Homo sapiens: one gene and its partners. The protein of the gene in region 2 purifies or fractionates together with the protein of the main gene of each other region. This does not show direct contact. Each region holds a gene or a part of one and is shown on either strand. Other genes may lie near its edges. The genes, in order: TMEM43, BRI3, HTR1E, KCNK16, DLK1 and SPPL2B.

Region 1 (4,478 bases), on a different chromosome or scaffold from region 2:
TGCCCCAGAGTTGGCCCCACCCAGCCTGGCCCCTGGCAGCTCCTGCCCTCAAGCCTGCCTTCCTCTGCTCCCTCATCCCAAGGCTATGGAGCGGGGACACAGAGATGAGCCAAATGCCTGGTATCTGCACAAGGGCCATCCCATCAGGCTGGAAGGGCTGAGATGATGCGACAGGCAGAGGAGGCCCTTTCAGGGTGCAGGAGGGAGGGCAGTGACCCACCCCAACACCTACCCAAGGTGTAGAGGATCCGTGTCATAAGGTTGAGGCCCATGAACATGGCCATCCAGCCAGCTGCCCGCAGGCCCCAGGTCTTCATGGAGTTGCTCCTTAGTTCTCTATGAAACACCTCCTGCAGGACAAGGTGGGGGCAGGTCAGGATGCTGAGGGCCAGTGGCGTACCCAGTCGGCAGGGCAGGTCCTGAGGGGGCTGTACCAACTCGGGAGCTGTTGGCCATTTCTGAACAGGCCAGACGGAGTGGGGGCAAGCCTCCTATAGGGCTAAGTCCTTCTGCCCATCTGGCAGAGCACAGGGCAAGGCATGAGATCTCTGTGGAACGTACGGGCCTTCCTCAGCTCAGAGCCTGCCAGCACCTGGAGCCCTCAGCCCACGGTCTCACCTGGAATGAGCAGGACCCTGCCCACCACCCCTGAGCAGGTTGGAGGATGTCTGCTGGGCAGCATGCTCTGCGCTATGTGTGTGATCTGTTTAATCTCAGAACCTCTCCACATGGCTTGGGGACACTGCACCCTCCTTCTCAGGCTCCATCGCTGTCGCTGCCCCTCTTCCTGTCCATTAGATGCTGCAATTCTTTAGCTGCTTCAGTCCATACTCTCTCCCCGGACATCCCATCTGCTTCCTTGGCCTCCACATGCCGTGACCCTCCAATTTAAAGCTGCAGCTCTGGCCCTCTCCCGGGCCTCACAGCCCTGCAGCTCCCACCACCTCCACCACCTCCTTGACATTTCCACTTGACATCTCAGCCTGTCTAGTGCTGACACTGGCGCCTTCTCCATCTCAGCACATGGCACACCCACCCACCCACTCACATCTATGGGAAAGACATGGCTCGCTCCTCCCCTACCACCCCATCCAGTCCAGGCCACATATTCCCGAGTCTCTTACCACTGTCTGCCCGCAGGAGCCTCACTGGCCCTGCTTCTATCACCCACTCTGTGTTCTCCACACAGTCACCTGCCAGAGCCCTGCCACACCCCCCGGACACCGACCCTGCTGCCAGTGCCCTGACCCTGCTGGCTGCTGTCCCCAGTCCAGGTCAAGTGTCCTCTCGCCTGTGTATCTGCGCGTGGGTTTGCTCTGCCTACAACGATTGCCTGCAGTCATGCCTGGCCAGCTTCCTACATATTCTTTTGAGCTTTGCTTGAACCCCATTTCTTCAGAGGGCTTTCCCTGACCCTCTGATCTGAATCGGGCCCTCTCTCAGAGTCCGTAACAACAAAAACAGGTCACATTTATCACTCACCATTTATTTGATACTGTCCTAAGTGTTTTACAAGTATTATTTAATTCTCAAATTCACTCAGTGAGGTAGGAATACTTACCTCCACTTTACAGATGATGAAACTGAGGCTCTGAGAGAATAAGTCATGTGCCCAAGGTCTCACCTCAAGCAGTTAACTAAACGCTACATTTCCAAGAGCAGGGAGCATGTCTGTGAAGTACCTGGTGTTCAATGAAAACTTGCTGAATGAATGAATAATCCTCAATGACCAAACCAGTTAGGGATGATGTGACTATTACTAATAGTACTTAAACATCTTCCCCTTCACAAATGAGGAAACAGGCTGAGAGATCAGCACCAGCTCAAGGTCCTGTAGCAGGTGGGAGGCAGTGCCAGGGCCGTCTGCAGTGTGCCTGCTTGGGCAGCTGTACTCTCCTGCCCCTGGGACTGGAATCGGGGCATCCTGACTTTTGCCCTGAGCTGCCTGCCTGGCTCTGGGCCTTTTTTCTACTTGGCAGAGACCCCAGACCTTGTGTGGGGGTGGGGGCTGGGCTGGGGGAAGACAGGGCTTTGGGGCTGCTAAGCAGCAGGAGACCCAGGGGGTAAGGAGGCCGCCTGAGCATCTGCACTGCAGGGCCTTCCTTTCTGGGGCATTACCTAAGCCATGGGCCCCATCCACTCCTCTCTGGAGGGGCGGCTGCGTGAGCTGGGCCTCAGCCCTGGGAGAGAGAGCAAGGCCTGGACTGGGCCTCCTAATTTTAGAAACTCGCTGGGGACCCTCAGCTGCTGGTGGAAGGGTGACTCATGGCCTTCTAGGCTGGGAGGTGGCAGCCCTACCCTGAGGTTGGTAACTGGGCTCCTGGGCAACAGCCTGACCACACCCTAGCCCTGGCCAGGTACCAGGAGTTGGTGAGGCCCAAGCACCACCACAAGCTGGAGGCTAATGGGACAGATGGCTGCTGAGGATCTAATAATAGGAACAAAAGGTCACAGCTAACCCCTGATGCCTGTCTGCTGCCTTGACCCTTTCTGGCCACTCTGGAATGAAAACCCCAGCAGTCCTGGTTAGGGCAGGTATAGAGTGCCCCACCAGGGATACCTGTGTTCATCAACAACAGAAAAACTAAAGACTCAATTCTTCTGCTGCAGAGAAGGATTGCCTGCCTAGAGAAGACAGGCTAACTTTTAAGGCACAGAACTGAACTAATCAGCACATCTTGGCACCCCTTCTCCTTGGGACCCGGGGTAGGCATAGCCCTCCCTATTTACAATGGGAGAGGGATACTCAGGTAGCTGAGGCCCAAAACCCTTCCCCGCCCTCCTAATGTTCTGGAAGGACACAGACTTTGGTGGAGCCCCCCCACCCACTCCCTCTCCCCGCTCTGGGCTGTGGCCACAGCACTCCGGGTGCCCCCTTAGAAGGTGAACCCTTTCGTGCCCAGACTGGGCTGTTCTTGCTGGAACTGACTGATCACTGATTCTTCTAGGGTTAACCCCTTCTCGTCAGCAAAACTCACTTGTCAGAGGCCCTGCTTGATCACTGCAGAAACGGATGTTCTACTCTGACGTCCACTGGTATCAGAGCACCTGTTCTCCTCTTTCCAACACTCGGCACGATGCATCAGTACTTACGAGTTTCTGTCACTCTCACTCCTCTACCGGACAGTCTGTGAGGCACAGTGAGTTTAGTGCCTAGCACAGTCCTGCACACTGAGGGTTCATGACAGACTCAGCATCCACAATCCAAAAACCCAAATGCTGAAGTGCTCCAAAATCCAAAACTTTCTGAATGCCAACATGACGCCACTAGTGGAAATCCCACACTTGACCCCATGTGACGGGTTGCATTGTATAAAATCACCTTCAGGCGATGTGTACAAAGTATACATGAAACATAAATAGATTCTGTGTTTAGACTTGGTTCTCATCCCCAAGAGATCTCATTATGTATATACAAATACCTGCAAATCCAAAAAAATCTGGAATCTGAAACACTCCTGGTCAAACACTTTGATGAGGCATACTCAACATTCCGCTATTTCTTCTTCTTGCCTCATTCACTGGCTATGACCCCTGGTAGTGTGATCTTATTAAATAACCACTGGAAGGAAGGAAGGACATGCTTGTTCCTCCACCGTACGAGTAGGGCACAGCACTCACCTCTGCTGAGAAGTCCCCGTGGTGCAGGAGCAGTAAGGTATCCCCAGACTTGGTGGAGAATGGGACTAGCTGGTCACCCCGCTGCCGGGCAATCACAGTGACCTGGTCAGAGGACCTGGTGTTAGAGCTGAGGGGTGACCAGCGGGAGACACGCCCACGAGAGCCATGGCCCACCCTCCCGGGACTGGGTGCCGGCTGGGGAAGTGAGCACAGAAACCCTGGGGCTTCTCTCTCTATACATCCATCTGGGATGCATCCACCTCTGCAGCTCTGGCTGAGCTGCTCCATTCAAAGCTCCAGGCATTCAAAGCTCTTGGGCAGTGCGCAGAGCAGGGGATGGGGCAGGACTGCACATAGGCCAGGAACGCAAGACCAATTATTGACAGATCAAAACGGGCTTGGGGAGAGGGTCTGTGTGTGACTGGAACACCTGTCATAAGGTGCGACTATGAGACCCCTTTTGAGCTGCCCTTCTTAACGTGGGGTCCATGGATGGCTGTGGGGACATGGGAGCTCTGAAACTGCTCAGAAGCGTGCCTGGCTGAGAGTGTGTGCGAGAGTGTGCCTTTCCCCAGGGAAAAGGGGGTCCAAGCGCTCCTGACATTGACCAAGGTGTCTGTGTCCAGGAAAGTCGTGAGGCTCTGACTTAGTGTCTGCCCCTGGGAAGCCAGGTTACCACGTGAGCTGGGCCCAGGTCAGGGTCATCGCCGCTCAGTCCAGCATAGGAAAAGGAGACACGCAAGTCTCCCACCTGGGGGTGGAAGAGAAGCAGGGAGAGTGAGGAACGGAGTAGCTGGCCCAGGCCCAGGTCCAGGATGCCTCGGCTACGCCCCTCAGGCTCTTCTCCCACCTCCACA
Region 2 (4,478 bases):
CAGTGGAGTAGGACACCGTGGCTCACGCCTGCAACTGCAGCACTTTGGGAAGCTGAGGCGGATCGCTTAAAGCCAGCAGTTCAAAACCAGCCTGGGCAACAAAGACCCCTCCCTACAAAAATTTAAAATTAGCCAGACACAGTGGTATGCATTTGGAAAAGGGGGATTGTTCAGCCGATTTTGGGAAACTTTTCTCCTACAGTCCCTATGTCCATTCGTTCTCAAAAGGCTCTGAGAAGTCCTGCAGCACTCTTATACCCAGTGTTTCCCAAACTCACACAACGCCACCTGTCTGTGTGGAGGGGCTGAGCTGGGCTGCAGGGCACACCATGAAGCTCCAAGGCAAAGCCAAGCAGAAGACCAGAGTCTGCCAGGAAAGTTTCTACTTCCTGTGTGGGCTTTTACAAATGTGTCCCCTATTTAAGCCCCAGAAGGTCGTCAGGCCACCACACTTGTTCAGCCTTGCCCAGGGCTGCCCCTGCCAGTCCAGACTGGGCAGGACACCTCCGCCCAGCCCTGCCGACTGCAGCACGCCCTGCCTGGCTCCAGGACCTTCTCCCCCAGGTGCCACAGCTCCCAAGACCACACAGTCGAGGTGGGGGAGCCTCGGGAAGGCCAAGCACCAGCTGTGTCCCCACAGATGGCCATGACAGGTTCCGGGGGAGCTGGAGGGAGCCAGTGGCCTCAGGCCTCTCAGGGGAGCTTCCTCTTCCCTTTTCTTCCTGGCATCTGCGGTCAAATCCCAGGAAACACACTGGCTGTATATTCTGGTTAGAAAATGTCCCATGAAAAAGCAGACAGGGAGGGTGAACCGGCTGAGAAATCCTTCTAGGGGAGAGGCCCGCACCCCCCAGAGTGGTCCCCAGTGTCACCGGGCACCCCTCAGCCAGCCCAATCAGTGACCATCTGAGCACCTCACCTCAGGACCAAAGCTGCTGAGAGGCAGGGCTGCAGGCAGAGCTGACTGCCTGTTCAAAGGCCCAGAGATGCCTGGGAGGAGGCTGGGCAAAGGGGTGTGGGTGGGGAGCCCGGCTGGAGCCCGCCCATGGGGCGCAGCAGAGACATCCAGGTGTGATGGTGCAATGGGCAGGGGTGGGGCTTCACAGTGCTGCCTGGGGGCCCCGCCCACACCAGCCTCCCACCTGCAGCTGCTGCTCGCGCCTGGGACCCAAGTCCAAGAGCAGCAGCGCCCTCCTGCTTCCTAATTCTCCATCCAGACCCAAAACCCACCTACTCTGTCAGAGCTGAGAAGTGCAGGAAGGCTGCTCACTCTTGCTGCACTCCCACTGCCACGGGCCAGGGCGCCGGCCCACCTGAGTGCTAGGATTTCCAGCAGCGCCAGCCCAGCCCACCCAGGCCCCGGCGCCTCTCTTCCCAGCACCTTGATTCCCAGCCCCGGGGCTGCAAGCAGCACAATGGGCCAAACCTAATGTGCTGACCCCACGGCCTCCCAGGCACAGGGAAACACCCTCCTTCCAACCCACGGAATTTCTGTCCAGACCCATCCCATCCTCAGCCAGAGCACAGGGCTGGGCCGTTTGTGCCACCCTGGCCTGAGCCCCTCAGTCCAGGGACCCACTCCGGCACCTCCTAAGGCAGCCTCCCTATCCCTGGTCCATTCAACCCCCACCCTCCTGCCCACCTCCACACCGCTTAAAGAGAGGGTAGGAGGGCCAAGGCCCCCGGGTCTCTGGGGAGAGCGAGCCTGTTTCCCTGCAGTGCCGCCCGGGAGCTGGACAGATCCAGCTGTCCCAGGAGGCTCAGGCCTCTGCCAGCAACAGAAGGCTGTGATCCAGACCTGAGAACCCCGGCCCGGGAGAACGAGCACTTGGGCCTGAGAGCTCTGAACGGGCTTCGAAGGCCCGAGGGCTGGCCAGGAGAGTTCGGCCCTCACCTCTGGCTCTGGGGTCAGCCTAAGGGTGGGCAGCATTCCCTACCCCCCAGGATTCCACAGCCGTACCCACAACTTCAAACGCCAAGAGGCGCTGAAGGCAGAACTCGCTGTCACTTGACAGCAAACTCACCTGGCAGCAACATGTGACCTGAACTGGTGTGTGGCTATTTATAGTCGTAATTTATCCTACTTTATCTGAATATTCATGTCTTGCTGCAGAAATATTAAAGTTTTAACTGCAGTACTGCCCTAGACCTCAAAAGGAGTGTTGGCATCATTTACTTTTTAAAACCCCAAATCTTCTGAACTGAGAAACACAATCCAGATTCTAGGTCAAGACTCCCCAAGCTGCAGGGCAGTCCTGTCCCCAGCACTGGAGGGCAGAAGGGGAACCCCTGCCCCGGAACACCTGCGGTCCCCACAGCCTCGAGTTCTCCTCCCTTCCAAACCCGGAAGAGCCCACCTGAGTTGGTGAGGTGGGTTTCAACCTTCTCAACCGCTCTGGTCCTGACCGGCTCTCTCTAGCCGCCCCTCCCCCATTCTTGTGCAATAAGCCACGCGGCCAGGGAGGGACCATGGCCACTGGCGAAATTAGGGAACTGACTAATTCCAAGAGCACTCCCTTAAGGCGACTCCAGTCCTGCAGTGAAAGTGGCCAGTCATGCCACTGTCATCCACTCAGAGCTGGGCCCTGGGACAGTAGAGGCCGCGGGGCTCCCGCCTCACCAAGGACAGAGGGGGCTGGCAGCAGGGCTCTGAGCTGCCCAGGGAGAAGGCCATCCTCGCCCTCCCTGTGTCCCCACAGGCACTTTACAGGAGGCTGAAGCTGAGGGTGTGTCCAGGGACTCCCAGCCGGGAAAGGCGTGGCTGGGATCTGAACCCAGATGGGCTCCCCAGTCACGAGCACCCATCCTGCAGGTCCCAGTTCTCCCTCCCAGGTAGCCCCCAAAGGCAGTGTCACAGGGGGCTGGCCCTAGGGCACCAAGCTGCCCTCTGCGCACATGGTGGCCTCAAGGCACCATCCACGCCCAGGAACAACCCCAGACCACCACCCCGCTGGAAGGCCAGGCCTCGCCAGGAAAAGGGGAGACGCAGGGCTTCCTCAGAGGGCTGAGGGCCTGAAGCCATGCTCAGCGCAGGGCGAGGTGGCCCCAAAGCAGCTCCAGCCAGGCTCTGGCTGTCCCAGGGTGTCCACTCCCCACAGGGGAGCTGCCTGGCTTAGGGACAGTTCACCAGGACCTCCCAGGGCCATTCCCAGCAAACCCAATGGCCAGGGCCAGCCCTCGCCTCCCCTGTGGAAGAAAGGCCTGAGAAGGTGCCCGGAGACTCTGCCTGCCACCACACCCACCCCAGCAGTGCCACTTGGCCCACAGCTGGGGGCTGAGCCCAAGGTCAGAGACTCAGGAGGCCACTGAGGGAGCACTTGGGCACCGAGGTCTGCAGCCCTGCCCAGCAAGCAGCCCAGGCCCAAGCTCCGGCCCATCCGCTGCCCCCACACCTCAGGCCAAGACTGTCAGGACGGGGACAGCCCACAGGCCATACATATGGGCAGAGCCATCCCAGCTAACTCAGCCACTTCCTCAACCAGGGGAGCTCTGGCTTCCAGGTCACAGGTGGTAGGAGGGAGCAGCCCCTCCACCTCCATCGTCTGGAAGCCCAAGGCTGTCACAGGCTCCTTCCCCTCCAGCCCCTCCCGGGCTCCACAGTCACCACCCCGTGCCCTCCACAGCCCACCTCTGCCCCCCAAGGGCCGTGGCAGCCTCCACGCTGGCCACTGAGCCGCACCCTGGACCTCTGAGCGACATCCGCCCTCCACAGCTGTTCTTTTCACCTTCCCTAGGAAAAGTGAAATCCTTTCCAGGATTTCCTCTCTCTCTGGTCACCCCCAAAACTAAATACCCAGTGACAGCCCAGCCAGTACTCATGGGGGCCTGGTGCAGGCCAGGGGCCTTCCCCACTCCTGCCTTCCCCGCTTGCAGGACGCAGGCTCTGCTCCAGCCCAGGAGAGCCTCCCAGCGCAGCTACCTCATCCTGCACCTAGGTACAACCACACCCCCAGCAAAGAATGACTGGCCTCCCTGGGCAAGGGAGAACCTGGCTTCAGGGAGGCCCAGGCCTTGGGCAGGGCAAGGCAGGGCAGGGCAGGGCAGGGCAGGGGTGAAGCAGGAGGGTGGGAGGAGCAGGGACATATCCGCCGCCAGGCTGCGGAAATGCTTCCTCATAAACGGCTAGAAAGGGAAGATGGAGTCAGGCAGCTTCAGCGAAGGCCTGGCCAGGGCAGCAGAGCCACAAGGGACACGGGCTTCTCTGGCCAAGCCTCACTCAGAAGGACTAACAGATGTGTGACTTGGGCAAATTCCTGCCATGCCACCAGGCAGGGAGGGGGACAGAGCCCGGCGGGCTGGACCTGGGGCAGGAGGAAGTGTGGTCATGTGAGTGGTATCCTGTCTCCCGGGCCAAGACGCCAGGCAGCGGCCAGACGTGTGTGTTGTGTGTTCAGGGAACCGTCTCCACTCTCCTCGCAGAGAGGAGTGGCCCAGGGACCACACACCCCACCCACGCCAGCAGCAGAGCACCCAGCCCC
Region 3 (4,478 bases), on a different chromosome or scaffold from region 2:
AAGTATAGTACAGTAAATGTATAAACCAGTAACAGTTGTTTATTATCAAGTATTATATACTATACATAATTGTATGTGCTATACTTTTATACAACTGGCAGCACAGGTTTGCTTACACCAGCCTCATCACAAGCACATGAGCGATACATTGTGCTACAACAACATTGCAATAGCGATGATGTCACTAGGCTGTAGGAATTTTTCAGCTCCATTATAATTTGTGGGACCACTGTCATATATGTGGTTTGTGGGTGACCAAAATATTGTCAATGTGCTGCATGGCTGTCTATTATCTATTTTATCCTGGTAAGTCTGTTATTATCATCACTTTCATGAGAGAACTAAGGTATGAAACAAATAAATGGCTTTTCCAAGGTCACACACACAGCAAGGTGTAAAATTCACATCTCTTAATCATTGATTTGCTGTTCTTATATCACTATCTATAAAGTGGAACTGGATTCTCAGCATTAATAAAACTAATAAAATCTTGATATTGTATAGAGCTTTATATTTTACAAATTCTTTGACAGATTATCTAATTTCAGTCTGAGAACATTACTATGAGATAAAACCACGAGGTGATACTGAATTGAGTCTTTATCAAACAGCTTCTGATGTCTTATATTGTGGCAGGCAGTATCTCAGGTGGCTCTCAATGATTTGGTTCCTGTAGGTATTCCTCCCACTGTGTAATCCCTTCCCCTTGAATTAGGCTGAAACTAGTGACTTGTCTCTAATGAGGAACACAGCAGAAGCCATGGGATATCACTTCTGATATCAGGTTACAAAAAGACCTTGGCTTCTATTTTGCTATCTTTCAATCTTAGCCCTTGCTCCAAGGACAGCAAGCTGCAACATCTGCATGAAGCACTCTGTTTTGTTAGTAGCCCTATAGAGAGGTCCATGTGGTAGCAAAAGAACGTCTCCAGCCAGCAGCCAGCTGGGACCTGAGGCTTGTCAACAGCCACGTGAGCGAGCTTGGAAGCGTTACCTTTCCCCAGTTGAGCCTTGAGATGTCTGCAGTCTCGGCTGAAACTTTGCAGCCTGTGAGTGACAGACCTGAGCCAGAGGACCTAGCTAAGCCATACCCAGATTCCCAACCCATGGAACTATGATCATAGAGATAATAAAAATCTGTTGCTTTAAGCCATTAGGTTTTGGGGTAATTTATTATTTAGCAATAATGAATACACACATTTAATCCTCATAAATAGCCCTATGACATAGTACTGTTATGTGAGCCCCAACAAATGAGGAAACTGAGGTTTAGAGATGTGAAAGCAGTTAATGAATGGCAGAGCTGGGATATGAACCTGGCTTTCTGGACTCGAGAGCTTGGGCTTGAGCCCCATGCTGTGTTACCCCCTAGTAGTATAACACAAGGTGCAGTTTGACATCACAGGTGACAATGAATCACAATAGCATATTCTGTTTTGAGAAACTTCCCTGAAAGGAGGCTGAGGTAGACAGGGCATGTATTATTGTCCCCATTGTAACGATGACAGACCATGCAGCTCATACAGCCAAGAGAATGGGGTATTAACCCAGGCCTTCTGACCCCAGGTCCGTAGAGTTGGGCCTGTGCTTCACTGCCACGCTGGCACTGTGGCACTCACTGTACATTCAGCAAGCCCTGAGGAAGCTGGCGGGAGCTTAGCTGACATGCACAGGGTAGGTCAGTTTGTTCTCTGGAGAGCATTCCATGAGATGCAAATATCTTCACACAGGCCTGGGTTAATACCCCATCCTCTTGGCTGTGTGTAGACCCTCTCACCCTTAGATTCAGACTCATTTTACTAAACAGGCAAAACATAGCTACAAATTTCATGTATTTTAATATAACAGGACTATGTGGTAATAGTAACAATACTATGTAATCATTAACTGTTAATTAAATGCATGCTAATGGTACATAAGTCTGAGAAAGGGTACTCAGTACACTTAATGCAATGTGAGAGATTATCTCAAAGCCAATGGGACCCGGCTGGACATCTTTTGTGCTGGAGAAATTACTCCATCTGCATCACAAGAGCATTGCCTCTGTCACCAAGCTGAAAGTAATCAAGTCTTGTGAGCTTTGAGACTTTTGCTTCCTCTAAAGTCATTTTTCATCCCTTCTTGGTAAGATGCTTCATTTATATGTAAGTCACCAAACCCTGGGGTCAGTACAGTCTGGTTCTCCAATGCCTCGGACATAAAGTAAAACCTTGATGGTCTTAGAAACAGGCTTACTGTATTGCAGAGAGGGTGAGGAGATTACATTGTTTTACCAGTTTACAATCTATGAAATAAAATATGCTTGCCAATATGAATGCATCTTGTAAATGATGTATTTGCTAATTATAAATTAAGTTACATATTTAATCCTTGATTTTTTAGAGCATTGTGTAAGGAATTGAATTAGGTTCAGAAGGAAAGAATGGTAAGAAAGTTAAAATGGCTCAAATGAAAGCATAATAAAAGAGGAAATCATGCTTCTTTCTTTGAATGTTAAATTATGATGAACTATATGGTAGGATAGTGTTTATGGATGACTGTATATCAAATTCTTGTGTTAGGTAACAAATACTTCCTTGACTAGGGCAGAGTTCAACATTAAAATTAGGACTATGTAATAAAGTTTAAAATGTAAGGTACTTAAGTAAGTATACAATTCTTGTTTACTTACAGGAAAGAATTAATTACAATGACAAACTACACTGTCAGAAATCATATAAGGATAAATATTACTGAATTCAGAGGGATGAGTTTGGAATGTGGAATCCTTTTCTGTAGGTTCTTCTTCCTCCATCTTCCTCAGATGAGGTGGGCTTTCCTTTCCCATTTTTCTTGGATGCTAACAGCATCTTTTATACCTCTCAGGCATGTTTTCTGCCCAACAGTGTACAAGCGTAATATAAATCCCTATGATTATATTGTCGCTAACCAGGCAAGCTATTGTAGCTAGCCACCTTACTGGGTTCTCTTATTCTTTCTAATGGCATTTTTATGTATCCCCTTGAATTTTCCTAGTAGCTAATTATTTAATCTGTCATTAATAATAAAACTTTTCCCTGACCAATATTTATAACACTTCCCTCCTTCCCTCCTTCCCTTCCTTCCTTCCTTCCTTCCTTTCTTCTTTCCTTCCTTCATTCCTTCCTTCCTTGCTCCCTTCCTCCCTCCCTAATGGGGTCATTAGGAGGATCTGAGAGTTTTAGAACTGCTAGCTGCTGCTGCTGGTAGCTATTTCTCAAAATATTTTCTTCTTGCTATAAAATGCTTTCCTTCTCATACCAGATTTCATAAAGACCTTCCATCTGGTCTGCACTGATAACTAGAATCCAGAGATGCTCATTCCTCTTACAACTTGTAGTTTAAAATGATCCAGATGCAGAAGGATTAGGTTTCATAGCTTCTTCTAAAGGATTTTGTCTTCCTAATCCTACAACTGCATGTGTTGAGAATTGATCAGCATGAGAGAGTGCTAACAATAAACCTATTAAAGTGTCCAGTTTTTCATTTGACGTGTTTTAGGGGAATACAACAATGGGATCAAAACACTGACATCTATTCAGGTAAGGACTGCAGTAAACCAGATAATCCACAGTGCATGAGACAAAATAAGAGAACTAAAAATGAAAGACAAAATTATAGTCAATCTGTATTAGAAAGAGGGTTCTCAAGAATTTTATCAATTTGTTGTGATCCGGGAATATGCCAATTGATTGAGTGATCTCTATAAATTCTGGTTCTCAGTTTCTTAATCCACAAAATGTGGGAACGAATAAAAAGTAGCTGGGATTTTGATGAAAGTCCTTTCATCACCAGGAAGATGAACTTTGGTAAGTTGACTGACCTAAGCCCCAAATTTTAGGGGCCACAATACTGGTTCTAGAAAATGATTCAGGGAGGAGAAAACAAGAGAGAAGTAAGTCACTCTAAAGTGCTGCTGCCCCATTTCTCTTCCCTGTTCATCTGTCCCCTCGTCACTTGTGACGGCACACTCATCTTCAATGTTTCCCTGGGGTTTATGTTCATATAATTTCACATGTAATAAAAATCTGGTAGGTGCAGAAGAAAGGAGCATAAAGCATGAGATGCTAAACTCACCTCTGCCTTGAGATGGCCTTGATAATTTACGGCATAAAAAGTAAGTTCCTATTTGGTAGAAATTCAGCTTTTGATCAGTCTCAAGCTTATTTTTTTGTGTAAATAAGCTTGTAGAAATAGAGGGAATGCTTTCCCACATTAGAGCGTTAGATTTGATCTTTCACTTTTAAAGGGTAGTGCAGAAATAGAATTCCAGGGTGGGCAATCAAAACAAACATGAAAAAAATGATCTGTGTGTAAAAGTGAGATGTAGGGAATTAGACTTGAGTAATGAGAAGATGACACAAAAGTTCAGGGCCTGAGGCTTTCTGCAAAGAGACCTACTTTCTTTTTCTTTCTTTTCTTTTCTTTTTTTGAGACAAGGCCTTGCTCTGTCACCTAGG
Region 4 (5,010 bases), on a different chromosome or scaffold from region 2:
TGGATATGGGGAAGTCCTGGGGTGTGACTTGGACTCCTCTTGCTGCTGTAGAGCCTCTCCTGGGTCTCCTGCCTGGAGCCGCCTTGGCTCCACAGCCTTGCCTCAGACCTGTGCAGAGGAACCCAGCCACATAGGAGCCCACTTGCTGTTGGATGATGGGAGAGGCAAAGGCCAAAATTTCCAGGCCCCGGGATGGAGTGGTCTAAATCTCTCCTGGTCAGGGATGTTGCAGTCTGGCAGGGGAAAGGCCAGACCTGGAGAATGCATTCCTGAGAGAGGCCAGACGTTCATGGAGCTCACTTTCTGGAAGGATCCTGGGATCTGCTGGCTCTCTGGCTTCCCATGGGGTGTTTGGAAAGGCTCTTGAGAAGGCAGGAGCCCAGAGGGAGTGATGAAGTTAAGGGGGTGGCCTGTGAGGGTCAGGGGAGGCCATGTTCAGGAAAGTGGGTAGGACACCCAAGAGGTCCTAAGCTTTGTTCACAGACAGCCCTGGACTTCTAGGCAAGGGGAGCTGGCGAGCTTTGAGAGGCAGCTCGCCTGCCCCTCGGCTGAGAGCTTCCTGAGGGCAGAGATCCTCTTTTCACTAAGATTGTTCCAAAGTCTCTGCCCAGGTCTCCCCTCTCTTTGATGCTCCCTGCCAGCCATTCCCATGGGCTCTCATCAACCCTGGGGCTATTCCCATCATAGCATTTTGGGCACTGTGTTGGGGCTGCCTCTTTGCTTGCCTAGCAACTAAAGGCACATCAAGGGCAGGCACTTCCACTGCTGTATCCCCAGACCCTGGCACAGACCCTGGCACAGCACCTGGCACATAGTAGGGGCTTGGCAAATGCACTGTGCACATATCAAATGAGGCAAAAGTAAAGTCATCCTTTGTTTGTGTAAGGTCTCCTGGAAGGGGGCATGGGGAGGGCAGTGGAGATCTGGCCACTACCTTTGGGTGGAAGGCTGTGGCAGGGGCTCTGGGACAAGGGTACACCTCCCCATCCACACATGTCTTTAATCCTATCTCACGTCTCCTCTCTGTTACTTTCTTGGATATACCTGTCTCCTTTCTCTCTTGGGAGAGCTCCTGAGACCAGCCCTGGCTGAGAAGTGAGGGGGTTGGGAGAGGAGAAAGCAGGGCTGGAAATCCAGAGAGCAGATAGGGTGGGACTGGGGAGGATGAAAGGGGTTTCTGGGCCCCCCCCGGGGGCCTCATGCAGAGATGGGGATCTTCTGAGGCCTGGGGAGCCCACTGGGGTCAGAGGCTGCCCCATCCTTGACGCCGAGGCCCCTACTGAGCAGCCAGAGCTGGCAGCATCTGTGCAGAAGCAGGGGGCCCAGTGGGAGGATCAGCGCCAGCCACGCCAGGCCCAGGAGGATCCAGATGGCTGCCAGGCTCCGATACACTGAGATATAATGCTTGCTGGGGTCTGTGCCTGCCAGGGAAGGGAATGGCATCAATGCCAGGGGTCTCAGGGCATAGCCACCTCCAGTTTCCATAGGGACCCTCACCAGCCAGGATGCTCTCTCCCTCTTCCTCATAACAAGGAACAGCAGTTGAGGTAGGTCTCTGCAGGGTGGTGATGGGTCCTAGACCAGAAACTTCTGAGAATGTTGCTTAGAATCCACAGTAGTCCCAGAAATCATTGGTTTGGCTCCCTTGAATGACCAAGGGCTATCTTATCCTCAATAGTTGTCCTCAGCTGACATCTCTCCATCCCCCAAATCCCAGTGGGCACCCCCACCCTGAGATAATGTGACTGTTTTGTTCTCACCAACAACATAGTCCCCAAAGCCAATGGTGCTGAGAGTGATGAAAGCAAAGTAGAAGCCCTCGCTGAAGCTCCAGCCCTCCACATGGCTGAAGACCATGGGTGGGAAGATGAGAATGACCAGCGTCCCCAGGGTCAGGAACAGAGCCAGGCCCAGGACTTGCAGTACCTAGGAGGGAGGGAGTTGGCCTCTGAGTCCACTTGAAAGTCTCCAGGATTGTATGAGGTTGGGGGGAGTCTGGGGTAAACATGGGAATGGGACTGGGCCATAGCTAGGACCCTTTCCTGCACTGCAGACCCTCGAGGTGGAGGTTGTATCTATGTGTGCATGACCTTGTCCCACCCAGGGAAAGATTTCGGCAGAGGGATTGCGTTAGTGGGTCAAGAAGCGATTTGGAGACCCCTTTGGACTTGGGGATCACACTTGAACAGGCTCCCTGGGGACTCAGATCTGGAACAGAAAAGTATCATTGAACTGTCTGCGTATTTCTGGCCTTGCAAGTGGCTGGCCAAGGGTGGGCACTGAGGGCATGCTGGGCAGCCTGCAGAGCTTGTTTGCTACTGCACAAAAGGATGTTGGAGTTCTGTGATGACCTTGAAGATGTGCTACAGAGATCCCTCACTTAAAGGAGGACGGTGGGCCAGCTGCCAGCTCCTTCAGGGTGTTCAGCTGCAGAGAACCTCCTGGCCTAGGGGCATACCCTTCCTGGGAAGGCCACACCCAGTGCCTGATTGAGGCAGGTATGAAAACCTGGCTGGTTCCGCCCACTGTGGGACAACTCTGACAGCTCTCACATGCTGTAGAGCTCCTTGGGGCCAAGCCTTTGTAGAGCATGCATAGAGATCCAACTCCCCACTCTGCCCAACCCTGCCTTCACCCTTCCTCTTTCACAGGCATCTACCCCTAACACCATGCATGCCAAACTCCATCTCAGCATCGGCTTCTGGGGAACTCCACTTGCAACAGATCTGTCACAGCAGGCCTGTAAGGGAGTTAGGGGGCATACCTGGGAGCGCCTGGGACGGTCCTCCCATCTTTCAATGGCGGCCAGATGGGCACGCAGCCCTGTGCCCAGGTGGTTGAGGAAGATCACGTTAAGCGGGATGCCCAACAGGGCATAGAAGACACAGAAGACCTGACCTGCCTCTGTGCTGGGTGCCAGGTTCCCATATCCTGCAAGGGAAGGGGGGCGTGTGCAAATATGGAGACTCTAGAACGCCCTCTGCTCCTCTTCCCCAGACTCTAGCTGAGGTTTGTCTGTCACCACCTCTGGGGGTGAGAAGGGGAAGCTCCCCTGTTCCCATGAACTCTGCTGGAATGATTTTTATTTATAGGACTCCTGCTCATCTTTGAAGGCCCATCTCAAATGACTCTGCCTCCATGAAGCCCTCCTGACTGCCGATTTCCTTCTCCCTTCTGGGTGTGGTTCCCCATAGTGTTTTATGTCATTGCTATGTAATTATCGACTTTGTTTTCTATTACTTTTTTTTGTGTATTTATCATGTTCCTCTTTGTTGGACTGGAAGTTCCTTGCAGGCTGAGCCTGGGTCTGATCCAAGTTTGTATCTCTCACCCCCAACTCCATCACTCTGCCTGGAATGTCACCTGAGTTCAAGGAAAGTATGTGGAATTGGACTTAACTGAATGGATGGGGTAGACCTGGATCTGATGGTTTCCTTGGGGTGGGATGGAGTGAGTTTTCTGGCCGAGGGGGTGTAGCAGCTGCTGTCAGTGCCCTGTTCCCTCAGAACACATGAGATACCACCTGAAGCTTTGGTGGACAGTTCCTGTATACAAATCAACCCCCGCTCCCAGTTTCTGCACATCTCTCTCTACCTGAGAGATTCTTCTGGCCAAAGGAGTATGCTTGGTCTATGGGAAGTTTCAAAATGCTGGGGAACTAATATACTCGGGACCAGCTCTCAACCTTTGAGGGCAGGAGTTGGTAGCTAAATGGCCCCTCATTCTTGTCCCTCGCTGGACCGTTCTGAGGAAGGGCTCTATCTAGCCTCTCAGAGGGTCCCAAGGAGAAGTGAGCTCAGTCACCCAAGCCAGTAATCTGCTAATTAATGCAAATTTCATTGCCACCTTCTCCCTACTGTTTCACTTACCCACTCCCTCCCTGGGCTTCCTGAATAATCTCCTAGACAAACCACATCCTTGTCTCAGCATCTGCTTTTGGGGAGCCCAAACTAAGACAGGGGCCTTGGGGAAGCTCTTCTCTACCCCAGCCCTTTACCTATGGTAGTGACGACTGTGCCTGCAAAGAAGAAACTGCTGCCAAAGTCCCAGTTGCTGGGGTTGGTAGAGTTGCCTTTGGGGTTCACACCTTTCACCCAGGCTTCCATGATGACCTGTAGGGGGTGGCATGGCAGGGGAGGAAGAAGGAGCTGATGGTTACTGGGCACCAGTTGTTGCCATGCTTTTGGCAGCATGCTTTTGTGTCATCTCATCTAATGATACTCTTAGATGATATTGTTCCCATTTCATGGAAAAAGGAAATGAAGACTCAGAGTGGCTAAGTGACCTGTGCAAGGTGACTGGACTCCAACTCCAGTGTCTGTTCCACTGTCTGTTCCACTGGCCAGGGCTGACTGAGGTGTGGGCTGCAAGCATGGGCTGGGGCGGGAGATGGGCCTGAGGGGTGAGGTGGAGGATGCTCAGGGAGGGGTCCCGTGGGAGATGCTGCTGGTGGCCAAAAGGATGGCACCCACATCAGCTGTTAGAACAATGGGAGGATTTCAGGTTGGGTATGTCTGGAAGGGATTGCTGGGGAACACAGGGTTTAGGGACCACAGGGAAGCCATGGGCTGCCTGCTATGAAGCTAATGGTGGGAAAGAGAGCCCTGTGTTCCCTAAGTGTCCAGGCGAGTGGGCACCCTTGCTCTTTGCTGCTCTCTAGTGAGCCTCAGCCCTTGCCTATGGGAGAAATTCTAACAGAGGCCAAGACAAAGGTGGCACGTGTGAGTGTGTGTGTGTGTGTGTGTGTGTGTGTGGTGGTTGTTTATATGTGATGTGTTGTATGCACGTGTTGTGCATGGCAACTGTATGTTGCACATGTGTGCATGTTTGTATGTGTGTTGCATGTGTTTTCACAAGACCCGAACCTTTGCCGGCTCAAGCCTACAACACCTCCCTTCGCTGCCCCACTGCTGACAACCTCCAGTCCCTGGGCCCAGCCGCCTTGGAGAATAGGCAGGGCTCTCTCCTCCCCTGCCCCAACCCTCTCCTCTTTAATTGTGGACTGTCTCA
Region 5 (4,963 bases), on a different chromosome or scaffold from region 2:
AATCCCCCAGATCCTCAAACGACTCAGAGCTGCTGCCGCTGCTTCTGTGAGGGGCAGCAGAGATGCTGGCCAGAGCATGAGTCAGCTGCGGGTAAACCTTGCACCATATTGCAGGGGCTGGAATTAAGGACCAGAGACAATTTGGGGTGGGAGGGAGCTCAGCTTCAGAACCACGGCTGCCCTGGCTGTACAGGGCAGGGGCCACAACAAAATGCTCTTAGGTGTTCCTTAAGGAAGGATGTTAGATGCAATCGAAGATAAAAATTAACTCTCTTTCTGGGGCTGGGGGAAAGGGTTGTAGCTGGCTTTTTGCCCAACTTCTTTCATATTCCTTAGCAGACACTTGTGCTTCTCTGATCCTCAGTTTCCCTATCTGTACCGTCTTTACTAATGTTGGGGACTGAGGGACAGGGGCCCTGAGGGCAGGCTGCTACACAGCTGGGAGTTTTTTTGTGGACTTCAGTTTGCTCAAACGTTAGGGCTGGTTTTGCCAAATGAAAATGGGCTTAGACGAACATTTCGCAGCCTGAAAATGCAGTGACAGCCAACTCTCAATTGCTTGGGGTAATGGAGGCAAAGATTGCATAAATTAATGAAATCAACAGATAACACCCATCTTCACTTTAACCCTTTCTCAGCTTTTCCCAACTGCAGCCTCCCCCTACACCTGACCCACTCAGTCCAGGCCCCCCAGCCCTGTCCTCCTGGCCCTGACTCAGCACCTGCCCCTCAACCACTGAGCAGTGCTGGCCACCCCCCACCCCGTTTGTTTGTTTGCAGCCTCTTTACAGTCTTGCGTGTGCTTTTCTAGGGAGTCTTAGCTCTGAGATCCCCAGAGCCCTGTCCATCACTGGGCTTCCATGACCTGGACAGGCAGCCTGGGGTCTGTGGTCCCACCGGCCCAGCTGTATGTGTATTTTGTGACTCTTTATTCAACAGGCAGCTCCCTGGCCCCCACGCCATGTTCCCTCTAGGTGCTGGGTGCTGATGGCGCAGAGAAGAGCAAAATAAAGTCCCTACCTCTGAGGAGGCATTCGGTACCCACAGGAAATTTATAAACAGATCTTTAGAATACAGGGCACGGAGTGTGCAGGAATGAGGAAGTGAGGAACACCAGCAACAGGAGACTGGGAGGAGGTGGTAGGGGCTAGGGCAGGCAGGTAAGGACGCAGAGCTGAGGTGAACAAAGGCGAGTGCCAACCTCTATCACAGAGCTCCCCGTCCCAGCCGTCGGTGCAAATGCACTGCCCGGGTTCTCCACAGAGTCCGTGAAGGCAGCCGGGAGAGGTCACGCACTGGTCACAAAGGGGACCCTGCCAGCCAGGCTGGCACCTGCAATGGGTGGGGGAGAAAGGTGGGGACATATGAAGAGGGCAGGGGTAGAGAGGCAGCTCAGGCTACTTTCTGTGGAACCAAGGACCCTTGGGGGTCTTTGCACAGTGGCAGCCGGTGGTCCTGGGAAGTAAACACCAGCCACCTGAATGGGAAAACTTAAAGAGAAAACATGCCAAGCTGAGGGGGCCGACTTGGAGGGGCCCCGAGATCCCGGGGGAGTGCTGCGTTTTGCCGCAGTGGCCTGCAGTGGTCCCACCTGCCCCCCCACCTCTGAGAACGCAGACAGGAGCTGTGGCTGCCCCCCCCCCGCCCCCCCCATCTCCCCAGCTCGCCCCACCAGTTTTCTGCAGGGGCCCGGAAGCTGTTTGCTGCAGCGTAGTGGCCAAGCCCCCTATTTTTTTCTGCCTGACTTCACGACTCCCCAGGCTTCTGCGTGGCCCCTACAAGCTGCCTCTGAGGAGCCACTCTATTACCTGCAAACATTGTCATCCTCGCAGAATCCATTTTGGGGGTTGCAGGCCGGGAAGCATTCAGCCCCTGAGGTACAAGAAAGGTTATACAATTCACCCCACCAGGCCCCAGGCCAAGGCAAAGGCTGTCTTCGCCCACACAGCCCACCACTGCCCTCGAGGGCACCAACAGCCCTCTTGGGTCCTACCAGCCTGGCACACAGTAGGCACTTCCTATCCGAGCATGGATGGGGCTCAGTGCACTCAGGAAAAACATCTCTGCCACGTTCCCAGCAATGAAATGACCACAGTACACTCTCCCTCGTTCTTAGGAGCAGGAGAAACACCTTCTCCTCGGACTCCCAAAAGCAAATACGACACCTCAAGTCCTCCTAACAGCGGGGACGGGGACCGTGGAGGGAAATATGTTGAGCCCTGGGCATGCAGCCTGACCGTCACTTTTGCAACCTGAGCTGAAAAGAGGAGCAGATTTTGAGGTGTTCAACTCCGGGAAAGCCCAGACAGGTTCACCTGGTGGGCGCCCCAGTAAGGCGTCTGCATTCTTTTTAAGGTTCATCCCTATTAAGCCGGGCACCCAGGTCAAATCTTCCCTCTTTCCCCTACCCCAGACTCTTCGCATTAAAAAAACGATGACGACACAGGGTTTTGCTTAGCGGGCTGAGGTTGCAACAACACTGCTTAGAGATTCTGACACTTTAACAGGCACCTACTGTGTGCATTTACTCAACCAGCTCCCCAGCTTTCTAGACAGCCCCCTTACAACCACTGGTGCAATGAGTGGGGGGGCGCTGCAGGAAGGGGGCAACTCTCTCGCTGTCAGAGACAGATGGCCGCTGCAGACAGAAGTGTCGCAGCCCCTCACCTACAGAAACGCGCCACGCAGGAAGGGCTCAGGCTGGGCTTCTCTGGGAATTGGGGGCTAAGACGGCAAAGTCGTCCCCCACTCCCGCCCCGAGACCTGTTCCAGAACGCTCACACAGGGACACCCCAAAGTTGCACCCCAGAGTATTTTCATAGAAGACTCCACAACAGCACCCCATTTTTCCATACCTCCTTGCTCAGCGCACCGACACCCCTCTGGCGCCACTTCTGCAGGGCGGGAAGGGGCTGGGGGTCTCACACATCCCCTGCGCCCTGGGACCCCTGGGACGGGCCTTGGCATGCGAGCGTGGTGGGTAGGGCGAGACAGGCACAGCGCGGGGCTTAGGGCTAGGCGGGACGGGCGGAGTTGGGGCTCACGAGACGGGGCGTGCGGGGCACCGGGCGGCCGGCGGGGAGTCGCAGGCTTCCCCAGAGGGGGCGCGAGCCGGGCCGCCGGGGAACTCACCATAGGTGCTGTGGCCGAAAGCCAGCAGGAGCAAGAGGACGCGCAGGAGGGCTTCGGTCGCGGTCATCTCTGGGCGGCCGGGGTCGCGGTCCCGGGAGCGGTGCGGGCGCGGGTCCGGCTCCTGGCGCCGCACTGGGCTTCTGGTTGCGGACGCGAAAGGGGGCGCGGGCGCGCAGCGAGGGGAAAGCCAGGGCTGCACCGGGCTGCGCGCTGCGCTCTCCACCGCCGCTGCCGGGGAGCTGCCGCCGCCGCCGCGCGCGCCGCCCTTTTCGTACCGCCTCCCCCCTCGCGGCCCCCGCCCCCCGCCCCCGCCTCCGTGCGCACGGGGCCGGCGCCGGCCAGTCCCTGTGACCCCCTCCCCTCGCAGGGCCGCCCCCGACCACGGCGGCGTCCCAGAAGCCCGCTCGCGCACACGGGTGCACTCTTGGCTAGACGGGCACAGGTATCCCGCGAGCGTTTGGTACACGTTCCCTCACACTGTACAGCACGCGGCCGCCGCGCACATACAGGCCTGCCTAGGACAAGTCGCAGGAATCGAACCTGGGCCGCAGACCTCCCCGGAGAGCACAAATCCGCACGCAGGAACACCGAAACACTTATCGCTGAAGTCCCGGGCACACGTGCAATGGTTAGATACCCAGGAAAACACAAAGGCGCACTATGAAGATGTGAACTAAGCACATAATTACACACGCACACAGAAAAACCCCCAGGAAAAGCCCGACGCCCCCTGTACCCCTGGCCATGAAGACGCAGAAAAATGCAGTTGCCCCGTGGCAACCCACACCCCGCAACGGAAACGCACACGGCAACTCAAACACACTGTAGCCCAGACGCCGTATAGACACAGTCCTAGGTGGCAGAGGGTCAAGCGGACCTGCGGTTACCCAACCATGGGCATCCTCCCCCATGTGCCGACCCCCTGCACACAGACGCTTACGCAGAGCCACCTGCACACCCAAACACGCAAACACACGTATAAACAGACGGACACCCGTGCCCGCATTCAGTCACACCCACCCCCGCACACACAGCATCTCAGTCAGGGCCTTAGCCGCGCTGAAACACAAATGCACCGACTCTTACGCACACATGTACGCACAGCCATGCACCTGATACCCACAAGCACACATACCCAGCTGACTCGTGGTCACACACACTGACAAAAACATATACGCAGTCCCCACACACACACGATCGCATCTGTCTTTGTCCACAGTGGCATGCATGGGCAGCCTCACCAATGTGCTCTCACATACACACAATAGCACTCCAGGCACTCGGCACGTATTCCAGACTCACTGGGAGACCTTCTCTGAGGGGTCGCCCGCTGGAGAGGTGGAGGTAGAGGATGCTGATTGCCAGAGACCCTCTTCCTCTGCAGAGCTCCCAGGGAGAGGGAGTGCTCCTCAGACACCCCTCCTCCCCATTGCCCCCGGCTTAGGCTTAGAGCCCTGCTGGAGAGGAAAGCTCTGCACCCCTGCACCCAGTCTGGATGGGGGAGGCTCAGAAAGATAGGGAGGGAGAGGGGTAGGAGGGGATTAAAGATATTTCACCTCCTGGGGGAAGGGTCCCAGGCGTCCCAATCTTTGGGTGGGTCGTTTAGGATACTTAATTTGCATATATTAATTTGCATACATATCCTAGATGCAGGGAGTGGGTGCCCACCCAGCTCGCGGCCTCCCCTTCTTCACAGTGCTGCAGGGGGGTGTGATCTCACCACTGTGAACCTGGAGGCTGGATGCTTTGACCTCCTGGCCCTCTAGTCCAGCCCTGGCAGGTCTGAGCACAGATTTCCCATCTTAGCCATAGATGTGGGAAGGCAGGCCCA
Region 6 (4,478 bases), on a different chromosome or scaffold from region 2:
ATTCGCCTCCTCTCCTGGGACCCTCACTCGAGGCTCGGGTCAGGCTGGGGGCGCCTGCTGGCTCCCCCTCTGCAGCTGACAGCCTCCGGCCCCCCAGGAGGACCCAAGAACAGGGAGGCCGAAGGGCATCAAGCCTTCTTCACCTGACAACAGGGCCCCAGGCCTAAAAGCGCCACTAATCCCTCCCTCGGCCGTGGGACTCCCGAACCGCACATACAAGTCCTGAGTGATACTTGTCACAGCCCATGCCTGCCCACTAAGCCGCCTTGAGCCCCGCACCCACTGAGGGCCTCTCTCAACTACGACGGCAGCGTGTGCGGACAGGGATGGCACTCTCGGCTCTGCCCGGCCTGCTCTGCCCTCGGCCCTGAGCCCCTGCACCAGGCCTCCGTGGATTGCCAGGCTCAGGGTGCAACACTGGCGGGGGCAGCCCAGAGCCACAGGCAGAGCTGTGAGGGAATTCCTGAACTCCATTCCTTCTTACTCCAAAACTACACTTCAGGGGCGGCCACGCACCCTGCCCAGCCCAGCAGTCGGCATGTCCCTGTGCTGTGACCAGCCCTGCCAGGCCCCCAGCTCTCAACCACAGCCCCATTTCACAGAAGATGGAAAAGGGGCCAGGCTTCAGGCCACCTGGCTAGGACCACAGGCGAGCACGGCCCCACCGGCTAGAGGGCAAGGGCACCAGGGTACCCAGAAAGGACCAGCTCAGGGCCAGGCCACCTGCTCCTCAGAAGCCACCCCAATCCCATCCCCACAGAGAGTGTGGTCTCCGTCACCCCTGGGGGCTGCTCTAGGACAGGCACCCAACAAGACCACGGCCAAAGTTCCACAGCCCCAGCCAGCAGCTCAGGAAGAACAGACTCATCTCCGCCCTCCCCACGGCCACACTCGGCCCGGATCCTCCCCATGTTCACACTCGGCCCAGATCCTCCCCACAGATGGATCTGCCTTTAGCGAGAAGTCGGAAGACCAGCCCCAGCTGCTGCCATCTCTGCCTCCTGCACCCCCCTCCTGCCCCTGAGAGCTGGCCCAGCGGGGGACGCACAGGGCCGTACCAGCCTCTCCCTGCTGACGATGAGCAGCCCGCGTGCTCCGCTGCCCTGGGCCAGCCTCACTTTCTCATAGAAGGTGCAGTTCCCCCGCGCCACCAGCGGGATCTGGTTGCTGAAGCCACGGGCGGGGAGGTCGGCTGCGGAGCAGAGCAGGGAGGCCGTCCAGTTGCGCAGCTGCAGGAAAGACTGGAAAGGCCAGGGCACAGTGTTGTCTCACGTGATGTGAGTCACCAGGAGGGCCCAGCTGCCCGTTCTCCCACCTGAAGCCTGCGCTGAGTTAGATCCCAGCCCTCACCTAAAGCCCCGCACGGCCTCGGCCCACCTAGGCAGAGCCATCCCTACTGCAGCTCCCACAGCCGGACCCTGGGCGACGGGCTGGGCTGCCTCATCTGAGCGGGGCCGGAGTCCTCACAGACATGGCTGTCCCCTGATACCTGAGCCACCCCGCGAGCCGTCACAGATCACTCAGCAAGACCAAGTGGGTCCCCACCGCAGCCCCACCACGGCCAGGCATCTGTGAGAAGGGGGAGGGTTTCCAGTGTGCAGAGAACAAAGCCCCAACTCTCAGGGGCCTCACAGCCCCTGAAGCCAAGACACACACGCACACACACACGCACACGCACACACACACCCACAGCCAGGCCGGAACACGCGCACACACAAGCACACGTCCACAGCCAGGCTGGAGCACACGGCACACACATGCATACATGCACACACACACACACACCCACAGCCAGACCAGTGCACACGCACACACCCACAGCCAGGCTGGAGTGCACACACACACACACGCACATAGCCGCAGCCAGGCCAGCGCGCACACACACACACACCCACAGCCAGGCTGGAGTGCATGCACACACACGTGCACACATACACAGCCAGGCCGGACCACATGGCACACATATGCACACGCAAGCACACACATGCACACTCACACTCAAGCAGACACATGCCTATTACACACATGCACACACACACGCACACACAGCCAGGCCAGAGCACACAGCACACGTGTGCATATACAAGCACATACCTGTGCACTCAAGCTCACGCACACACACCTATTACACACACATGCATACACACACGCCACATGAACTCACACACTCACACGCACATACCTATTACACATGCACTCACACACACTCATGCACACACACGAACCCAAACACACAGGCACATACACATCCACACACAAACCTATTATCCACATGTACACACACATACACACAGACCTATTACACATGTACACACGCACACATGTGCAGACACATGCACACATCCACAAACATAACTATTATGTAGCTACATGCTTACACACACCTGCACACATACAGACACACATGCACTCACACATCCATACACAAAACTATTGCATGCACACTCACAGGCACATGTGCACATAAAAACAGACATACACATTCAGACCCATGCACATGCCCCCACACACCTATTACACACATGCTCACACACACAGGTGTGCTGACACACAAACACGCACTAAGGCACACATGTCCATGCACATATCTAGTACACATGTGCTCACACACACAAACTCAGAAATATGCACTCAGGCACATGTCTTCACACATACCTATTACATGTGTTCACATACCTATTACATGTGTTGACACACACCTATGTGTTCACACACAAAAAAACACTCAGGCACATGCACACATACACTGATGCAAACTCACATAAACATGCAGACACATGAGCATGTCCAGGCACATACTGATTACACACGTGCTCACACGCACACACTATGCATAAAGCTGACAGGAAGATGCTAGTGCCTCTTCGCCGGCACACCTCGAGGGCTCCAGGAGGGGGCGGGACACAGTGGGAAAGGAGGCGGGGCCTGAGGGACTCAGTGGGAAAGGAGGCGGGGCCTGAGGGATGCGGTGGGAAAGGAGAGAGGGCCTGAGGGATACGGTGGGAAAGGAGGCAGGGCCTGAGGGATGGGGTGGGAAAGGAGGCGGGGCCTGAAGGATGCAGTGGGAAAGGAGGCAGGGACAGAGGGGTGTGGTGGGAAAGGAGGCGGGGCCAGAGGGATGCAGTGGAAAAGGAGGCAGGGCCTGAGGGATGAAGTGAGAAAGGAGGCGGGGCCTGAGGGATGCAGTGGGAAAGGAGGCGGGGCCTGAAGGATGCAATGAGAAAGGAGGCGGGGCCTGAAGCATGCAGTGGGAAAGGAGGCGGGGCCTGAAGCATGCAGTGGGAAAGAAGGCGGGGCCTGAAGGATGCAGTGAGAAAGGAGGCGGGGCCTGAAGGATGCAGTGGGAAATGAGGCGGGGCCTGAAGGATGCAGTGGGAAAGGAGGCGGGGCCTGAAGGATGCAGTGGGAAAGGAGGCGGGGCCTGAAGGATGCAGTGGGAAAGGAGGCGGGGCCTGAAGGATGCAGTGGAAAGGAGGCGGGGCCTGAGGGATGCGGTGGGAAAGGAGGCGGGGCATGAGGACTAAGTGGGAAAGGAGGTGGGGCCTCTGAGGGAGGGACTCATCCAGCAGCAGGTGTTAGTGCCCCAGTCAGGAAGACGGTGAAAGGAACAGGTCTCGTCCCTGGGGCCCCACTGTGCCCTCTGCTGTTACTCCTCTGAGGACCCCTCTGTCTGGGCCCACTGGATAGGGTCCCCGGCATGGAGCAGTAGAGACCCTTATCTACCACATGGAGCTCGGCCGGTGCCTCTGGATCTGCACCCCAAGGCCGCATGGACAGCTTGCATTGATGACCAGGGTTGGGGAGGCCCAGGGGAACTGGGGGCCAGCTAAGAGTCCCCCAGACCTGGTCAGGGCCTGCCTCTCGCCTCTGGATCTTTCCTGCAACCCCAGCCGGATGTGTCTCTAGAGCCCCGGGGCCCCCGCATTCTCCTCCGCAGCGGCGCCCGGCCAGCGGGTACTCACTGCCTTGCTGAGGTCGTGCGGAAGATGGGCCCACTGCGGGTTGTAGAGGATGCAGTAGTCTTTGCCTTCGGGGCCCCCGGCCTGGGAGACCACGTGCACCATGCCGTACTCACAGGCCACCTGCAGGACAAGGCCAGCAGTCAGAGCCACAGCACGGGACGTGCGGGGCTGCACCGCCCCACGAGAAACAGGCCCGAGGAGGGGAGGACGCCTCCAGGAAGGGCGCCCATGTTCACCAGGTGGTCTGGGATGCTTCCCCCTCTCGACAGGACAGACAGGGACGTGACCATACGTGGTTTACAGCAAAGACCCAGACTGGCTCACCTTCCTCAGGGAGCCCCAGGCTGGTGACCATGAGTGTGTCAGGTCACCCCTTTGTGGCTCCCGAGTTTCTGCACCAAAAAACAGGGATCGCACCACCTCCTGGGCCTCCCAGGATCAGTGGGCACGGTGGGAGAATGACAGCCACGGGCAGAGCCACGGGCAGAGCCCTGAGCAGGGAAGCAGGGCAGGGCC

Evidence for each region.
Region 1: the proteins of BRI3 (region 2) and TMEM43 purify together in Homo sapiens (co-immunoprecipitation; one large-scale study listed by IntAct). This does not show direct contact.
Region 3: the proteins of BRI3 (region 2) and HTR1E purify together in Homo sapiens (co-immunoprecipitation; one large-scale study listed by IntAct). This does not show direct contact.
Region 4: the proteins of BRI3 (region 2) and KCNK16 purify together in Homo sapiens (co-immunoprecipitation; one large-scale study listed by IntAct). This does not show direct contact.
Region 5: the proteins of BRI3 (region 2) and DLK1 purify together in Homo sapiens (co-immunoprecipitation; one large-scale study listed by IntAct). This does not show direct contact.
Region 6: the proteins of BRI3 (region 2) and SPPL2B purify together in Homo sapiens (co-immunoprecipitation; one large-scale study listed by IntAct). This does not show direct contact.

Annotation. Positions count from the first base shown.
Region 1 is NC_000003.12:14,135,052-14,139,529, reverse strand, and holds part of TMEM43 (transmembrane protein 43), read right to left. Parts: intron 4,373-4,478; coding exon 4,298-4,372; intron 3,724-4,297; coding exon 3,622-3,723; intron 351-3,621; coding exon 233-350; intron 1-232. UniProt on the Homo sapiens protein: May have an important role in maintaining nuclear envelope structure by organizing protein complexes at the inner nuclear membrane. Required for retaining emerin at the inner nuclear membrane.
Region 2 is NC_000007.14:98,284,420-98,288,897, reverse strand, and holds part of BRI3 (membrane protein BRI3), read right to left. Parts: intron 1-4,478. UniProt on the Homo sapiens protein: Participates in tumor necrosis factor-alpha (TNF)-induced cell death. May be a target of Wnt/beta-catenin signaling in the liver.
Region 3 is NC_000006.12:86,940,508-86,944,985, reverse strand, and holds part of HTR1E (5-hydroxytryptamine receptor 1E), read right to left. Parts: intron 1-4,478. UniProt on the Homo sapiens protein: G-protein coupled receptor for 5-hydroxytryptamine (serotonin). Also functions as a receptor for various alkaloids and psychoactive substances.
Region 4 is NC_000006.12:39,315,022-39,320,031, forward strand, and holds the end of KCNK16 (potassium channel subfamily K member 16), read right to left. Parts: intron 4,113-5,010; coding exon 3,998-4,112; intron 2,932-3,997; coding exon 2,765-2,931; intron 1,927-2,764; coding exon 1,761-1,926; intron 1,422-1,760; coding exon 1,198-1,421; 3' UTR 1,150-1,197; downstream 1-1,149. UniProt on the Homo sapiens protein: K(+) channel that conducts voltage-dependent outward rectifying currents upon membrane depolarization. Voltage sensing is coupled to K(+) electrochemical gradient in an 'ion flux gating' mode where outward but not inward ion flow opens the gate.
Region 5 is NC_000014.9:100,725,305-100,730,267, reverse strand, and holds the start of DLK1 (protein delta homolog 1 isoform 1 preproprotein), read right to left. Parts: upstream 3,377-4,963; 5' UTR 3,200-3,376; coding exon 3,133-3,199; intron 1,873-3,132; coding exon 1,809-1,872; intron 1,333-1,808; coding exon 1,202-1,332; intron 1-1,201. UniProt on the Homo sapiens protein: May have a role in neuroendocrine differentiation.
Region 6 is NC_000019.10:2,334,206-2,338,683, reverse strand, and holds part of SPPL2B (signal peptide peptidase-like 2B isoform 2 precursor), read right to left. Parts: intron 4,083-4,478; coding exon 3,963-4,082; intron 1,242-3,962; coding exon 1,059-1,241; intron 1,053-1,058; exon of another isoform or gene 1-1,052. UniProt on the Homo sapiens protein: Intramembrane-cleaving aspartic protease (I-CLiP) that cleaves type II membrane signal peptides in the hydrophobic plane of the membrane. Functions in ITM2B and TNF processing.